2 linked regions of the Homo sapiens genome follow. Changing the gene in region 2 together with the main gene of any one other region gives a genetic interaction. Each region holds a gene or a part of one and is shown on either strand. Other genes may lie near its edges.

Region 1 (3,689 bases), on a different chromosome or scaffold from region 2:
AATTGAAATTCTCCAAACCAAAAATCTAAACATAGAATACCTTACATTAGCCTAATTTGCTGGGTTCTACAAGCTGATCCGGAACAAATGAACAAGTGGAAAGAATTTTTTACACTGGGTTTTCCAGAAGTTGGAATGTTTCTTCTTATAAGTAAAATCAAGTTTACTTATCCAAAATATAAAGTTATTGAGGAATTATTAGAATGTTAACATTATTGATGACCAAAGTAAATATACATCAACACACTTTTCAAAGACAGTTTCTATTTAGAACCCATGATAAAATTTGATAATTGCTCACATGAGAAAAAACAACCAACAATATACAGAAAACAAACGAATATTTAAAAAATATAGGCTGCCAGGTGCAGTGGCATGCACCTGTAGTCCTAGCTATTTGGGAGCCTGAGGCAGGAGGACTGACAGAGCCCAGGAGTTCAAGTTCTGCCTAGGCAACATAGTGAGACCCCATCTCTTAAAAAGCAACGTCATCAACGGCAATAACAACATTCATTCTCTTGGGTTCAACACCTGTGAAAAGATATATATATAGAGACTATCTTACCAGTCTTGAGGCATAAGTTTAAGGGGCTGGTCTACTACTCTATAAGGTACTGTAACACTAATTGCAGTGCCCCCTGGTTGCATCTGGTCTTTTCTTCTTTGTATTAGAGTTTCATTTTCTCGTTGACAACCTTGTTTCTTCTTTTCATCTGATGGGACAAATCTTTGAAAAAACAGAGATGAGAAAAAGTCAATGTATTCCACGTGATGAAAATGGGAAGATAAACTATAATTTGAAATATTTTTTTTTTTTGAGACAGAGTTTTTTCTTATTGCCCAGGCTAGAGTGCAGTGGTGCAATCTTGGCTCACTGCAACCTCCACCTTCTGGTTTCAAGCGATTCTCCTGCCTCAGCCTCCCAAGTTGCTGAGATTACAGGTGACCGCCACCACGCCCAGCTAATTTTTTTGTATTTTTAGTAGAGATGGGGTTTCACCACGTTGGTCAGGCTGGTCTCGAACTGCTGACCTTGTGATCCACCCGCCTCGGCCTCCCAAAGTGCTGAGATTACAGGCATGAGCCACCACGCCCGGTCTGAAATAATTTTTAAACATTAATTAGTTTTAAACTAAAGATGTTTGTTTTTAAATAAACCTGCTCTGCAAGTACAGATCATGGAGTGTATAGGTCTTTCCTCTGTATACCAAATAGAACTCAAGCTCACTCAGACCCTAAGTTGGGTGTGTGTGTGTGTGTGTATGTGTGTGTAACACCACACAATTTATATTCATTCAACTAGCACTTAGCATTTTCCACACTAATACTTAATTTCTCAAATTCTATTAGAGGAAAACTTCATGATAAAGAGGAATTTTATTAGAAATCAAAAGGTCATTTGAAATGAAAAAGTTGTTGTGGCTAGTAGGCTTCTTTACGACTTAGCCTATCCAGGAGCTTCATAAAACTTTTTTTTTTTTAAGATTTTATGCTTCAGCAAAATTACAAAAATACCATCAAACTTCAGAGTAGCCTTGAAAATTTTAAAGTATGAAAATTAAATCAGTGCATGCTGATAACCTGCTATTATTATCAACTAGTGGCATTTATCAACTTACTTATGTGGATCCATTCTCAAGACAGATATTCTTAAAAATAACTTAGCAATCTGGATAGCTATTACCACCTGTAAAATTTGCTAGTGTTCACAAAGTATTTTAAAAGTCTTATTTTCTAAATATATACATAATCCTAACAGTCCAATAACATATTTTATTAACTATGATCTAGTCTCTCCAATAAAATGGAGGGAATACAATCAATATATTGAGAGTATCATTCTGCTTCTAAAGTTTAAAAGAGATGAAAGGGTGAAAGGACCAAAAAGCACAGGAGAACTTGCACTAATTAGAGTTCTCTGAAAAACTTCAATTACACATATTGGATTCATCACATAATACTAATTTTATTGTCTAGAAAGTTTTTAGTTCATGGTGATAATGATGATACTGAACTTTGCTTCTGAGCTGATTGTTCTCACATCCATTTTACATTTGGTTAAAAAGTTAAGATTTCTATATCATTTAAAAATTTCCCCCAGATAATCATTTGCTTCCTATGGCATTTGGTTTATTTATTAATCAAGCTCACTTAGAAAATGCCAGACAGTACTAATACTTTGAATAATGAAACACATTATTTAGAAAATTTAATATGTGTGCATTGTTTGAAATTGCATTCTAATAAAAAGCCACAACAAAAATGTTTTAATAGTATGTGCAATACATTGTGCTATAAGTTTTATAATATACATAGTTGTACAAAACATAGTCCCTGCCCTCTTGAACTTATGTTCCACACACACAGAACAAAGGGATTCTACTGCCAAGAGAAATGCTTTGTTTTATCTCAGTCTATAACTACATGGGATTTAAACTGTTTTAAGTTGTTAAATATAAGACTGCATCTCCCTCTTTTCTGGCTTCTGAAATTTTAACATGGTGTTAAAGTTTAAATTTACTTGTACAAAATTACTTATAAACTTATAAACAAAATTACTTATAATCATATGACTAGAATGCAAAATACATACAAATGAGTGATCTATTACAATACCAAACTAATAAAAAGTCTATTATACACCTATTTCAACTTTTGCAGGTCTACACATTGGTTGATATGTTTTATAAAAGCTCAGAAACATTAACGTGGTTTTTACAATTAACCACCGTCCTAGAATTTTTAGATGCTGTAGCATGTTAATTTCTGATTATATCTACGTATTTTCTTAGAATTAGTCATCTCTATTAGCAATAAAAAAGGCTTTATTTCAAAACGCTTTTCAGCAAGGATCTCATTTGAAAACATAAGGATAGATCTTATGACCTCTTCCCTAAAGTTAAGTCTACTAAAAAGATTAGTATTCCACAGAGTCAATATAATTTTACCTGTTCACCCTACTGCAGTTCATCAAATCTAAGACACAATGATTGTGAGCTACACCATTATATTGTACCACTATGAAAGGAAAAAACTACTGCCAATTAAACTATGATATTCTACATAAATCACAGTCATCATCCCTCCAGAAAACTGGTTATTTCTTCTGGCTTGGGCTGCACTGCTGGGTGTGTGATAGGCAATTGTTTCATATGTATCTCAGGCAAAATAGGTTCATCTACTATTGCTATCTTCCATTTTTAGGTTCCATAAAGCTCCTGGTTGTTGCTTTGCAAAAAAAAAAAAAAAAAAAAAAAAAAAATACGGGATTAGGGCGAGGTGCAGTGGCTTATGCCTGTAATCCCAGCACTTTGGGGGGCCAAGGTGGGTGGATCATTTGAGGTCAGGGGTTCGAGACGTCTGGCCAACATGGTGAAATCCCGTCTCTACTAAATATACAAAAATTGGCTAGGTGTGGTGGCGTGCGCTTGTAATCCCAGCTACTCTGGAAGCTGAGGCAGGAAAATCACTTGATCTCAGAAGGCAGAGGTTGCAGCAAGCCGAGATCACACCACTGCCCTCCAGCCTGGGGGACAGAGTGAGACTCTGCCTCAGGAGAAAAAAAAAAAAAAAAAAGAATGGGAATGTCATTCCTCTAATGCGGAAGAATTCAAACATCAAATCTGCACTCCACTGCTTCATTTTAGTGTATTTTTGAATATACAACATTTTTATTGACATAAAATTTA
Region 2 (3,689 bases):
AACAGAACATTTGTTTTTATTTACCAACAACTACACTTACCTTATAAACAGAACTGCCACCAACTATCCAGACCATGTCTACTTTATTTGCTAATTCTGGTTGTTCAGTAAGTTTTAAGGCATCATCTAGACTTCTGGAAAGAAAATGAGCTCCTTGTGGAGGTTCCCTAAGGTTAAAAAAAGAATTCCACAAAATGTTTGTAAAATCCATCCATACTAGTCAAATAATCTGACTAAGATGCAGTGACTATAGAACTAAAATCATCATAAATATGAATCCTTTCAACAAAAAGCACTTAACATCAGTATGGCCTCTGACCAATAATTTAACCTATATTTGTACATCTGTGGTTCACAATGAATCATAAAACCATGTGATATCTTGTGATATCTCTGGTGGAAAAACATCAGAATAGTAGTTATTTCTGGAGGGGTGGGATAAAGATTAACTTGGACAGGGCAGGAGAGAACTTTCTGGGGGTGATAGGTAATATTCTGTATCTTTGATAGGGCTGGGGTTACACAGGTGTATACATTTATCAAAACTTAGCAAATGTACATTTAAGACGTGTGTCTCATGTAATATTTACTTCAGAAAAAAACTGTAAAGAAAGACTGAATCATTTTATTTATTTATTTATTTATGAATGAGACGGAGTCTTGCTCTGTAGCCCAGGCTGGAGTACAGTGGCGCGATCTCAGCTCACTGCAAGCTCCGCCTCCCAGGTTCATGCCATTCTCCTGCCTTAGCTTCCTGAGTAGCTGGGACTACAGGTGCCTGCCACCACGCCCGGCTAATTTTTTGTATTTTTAGAAGAGACGTGGTTTCACCGTGTTAGCCATGATGGTCTCAATCTCCTAACCTGCTGATCTGCCCGCCTTGGCCTCCCAGAGTTCTGGGATTACAGGCGTGAGCCACCGCACCCGGCCAAGACTGAATCATTAATGGTATGAATGATGAAGTATTTAGGTGGAAATATACTAATGTCTGCAGTTTATTATGAAATGCAAAAATGAACAAGACCAATTGATGGATGAAATGTGATGAAACTAGTAGAGTAAAATGTTAATGGTAGATCTAGGTGGTGAGTTTACTGTAAAGTTCTTTCTGTATGTGTGAAGATTTTCCTAATATTAGAAAAAGAGTGATATGTTTGAATGACTGCAGAAAAGCTTGGAATGACATTCAGACTGTTAATATGTTGTTACCTTTGGGAATGGGGAAAGGATTTATGTTTCAAACAATACAGGAATGGGTGAAGTATTAAAAAATGAGCTTATTATTACTTATGTAATTAAAATCCAAAAGGGAAGAAGTTAATTAATTTCAGTGTTTACTCAGGGGTGGTCCAATATTTTGGCTTCTCTTGGCCACATTGGAAGAAGAATTGTCTTGGGCCACACATACAATACACAAACATTAACAATAGCTGATGAGCTTTAAAAAAAAAAAGATCTGTGCATGTTTTAAGGAAATTTACTAATTTGTGTTGGGCAGCATTCAAAGCCATCCTGGGCCACACTGAGGCCTGCGGGCCATGGGCTGGACAAGCTTGGTTTACATTGACTAGCTTAGTCCCTCCCAATCTCTGAAACTACTTTGTTGGTCGTGGTGGGGGTTGCAATTCCCTTTATAAATGATGAAACAGGTAGAACTAGGCTTTCATAGTAATTAGATACACAACAGAAATTACAATTCCATGTCAAGTTTTTAGCCTGGTGCTTTAACAAGATTATATAATTGCCCTTGAACTCATAGTTATAATAAGGATTAATCAAGAATAGGGACTATTCATTCTCTTGATTGCCTCCTCCCTCTCCCTCCTCATATAAATTTTACTTATTTTACTCTGTCATTCTTAAAAGAATTAGGTTAGAGCAAAGAATATACTTTGACTCAGGCTGGAAAAAGACATGGTGGCCAGAGAGAAGTTAAATAAGCCCAGGTATCTCCTAAGGTATCAGGGCAGTTACAGGGACCAGGTTGGATTAGGCTCTTCAGGGAGAGAACTCAATCTAGAAGAAACAAAGATTTGGAGTTGGGAGAGAAGAGAGTTTAGTTAATAAACAGATGATGGCCAAAACAGAGCCGTGACGGTGTTAGTAAGTGCAGCTGTGAAGACTTCCTTGCCCTTTTTTGTAGTGAGTATAGAAAAGAAAGTGAAGAACAGATTAGCCAGGTGTGGTGGCTCACGCCTGTAATCCCAGCACTTTGGGAGGCTGAGATGGGCGGATCACGGGAGGTCAGGAGTTCCAGACCAGCCTGGCCAACAAAGTGAAACCCCGTCTCTATTAAAAATAGAAAAATTAGCTGGGTGTGGTGGCACGTGCCTGTAATCTCAGGTACTTGGGAGGCTCAGACAGGAGAATCGCTTGAATCCAGGAGACAGAGTTTGCAGTGAGCTGAGATTGTGCCACTGCACTCCAGCCTGGGCGAGACAGCGAGACTCTGTCTCAAAAAAAACCAACTCCACTCCCCCCTTCCCCCCAAAAAACCCATATTAAATATAGTGCAAAGTTAGAGATTTAAGTTAGAGCAAAGGTATGAAGAATATGCTTCCGTAAAATGTGGCTATTTAGCAGTTTAGAGGTAAGTATCACAGGAAACACTGGACCTCTAGGTGGGTAAAAAAGAGCATGCAAAAAGCTGAGCTACGGTTTGAGTTCATCAGCCCTTACATGGCACAAGCGCTAGAAATACAGTAAATGACAAATAGCAAGCATCCAATATAGTCACATATTTCACTGCTGAATTTCTTTCCTATAATTATTTTAAACCAATCTAGATTGGATTCCCTGACAAAGGAGAGTTGGTATGTAGTAGCATATGTATTCTTTGTTAAGAAATGTGTGGACATTTCTTTGTGATTGAGTCTTGAAGGTTTGCATGAAGACTAAATGAGATAATGTACACACTGCATTTAACTGGCAATTGTACGTGGTACTATCATTCCTTTTTATAGATGAGGAAACTGAGGCTGAATGGTTAAGAAACTACTGGTCACACAGCCGGGAAATGATGGACCTCCGAGTTGAACTCCAACAGATTTGACTTTGAAACTTGAGCTGCAATTTGTTACATGGACAAAAGACTTCAGTTGGTGCCTGTGGCAGGGTCCTCCGATTCAGGGGCCCTTAAACATCAGGATGGTGGGGCTTAGATTAGGCAGAACCCTCTGACTCTTGTCTTCTGGCCTTATCTGATTATCTCGGGTGCCATATAAACATTATCCTTTTTCACTGTTCCTGATGTGAGGACTGCCGATGGAATTCTTGCTCAATTTCCCTGAGGAGTGTTGGGAAACCACTTAAAAACAAAAAACCCTGAAATGGAATAGTGTCTTAACCAGAACGCAAAAATACATCTTCAATTTAAGACCCTTCATACTGAGCCTTTAAAAATGGGGTTCCCTACTAAGCCATACCTCATTTTACTGTGCTTCACAGATATAAAGGTGTTTTTCTTTTTTACAAATTGAAGGTTTGTGCCAACCCTGCACTGAGCAGGTCTACTGGTGAAGTTTTTCCAACAGCATGTGTTCACTTTCTATCTCTGTTACCTTTTGGTAATTTCCACAATATTTCAGGCTTTTTCATTATTAAAATACGTTTTGGGGATCTTGCTGTTACTGTTGCAAGTAACTGTTATGGGGTGCCATAAATCATGCCCTTTTAAGATGGTGAATCGA

Evidence for each region. A genetic interaction does not mean that the proteins touch.
Region 1: changes in DHFR (region 2) and CDC73 are lethal when combined (synthetic lethality), as found in Homo sapiens cells (one large-scale study listed by BioGRID).

What each region holds. Positions count from the first base shown.
Region 1 is NC_000001.11:193,230,031-193,233,719, reverse strand, and holds part of CDC73 (parafibromin), read right to left. Parts: intron 728-3,689; coding exon 566-727; intron 1-565.
Region 2 is NC_000005.10:80,637,843-80,641,531, forward strand, and holds part of DHFR (dihydrofolate reductase), read right to left. Parts: intron 168-3,689; coding exon 41-167; intron 1-40.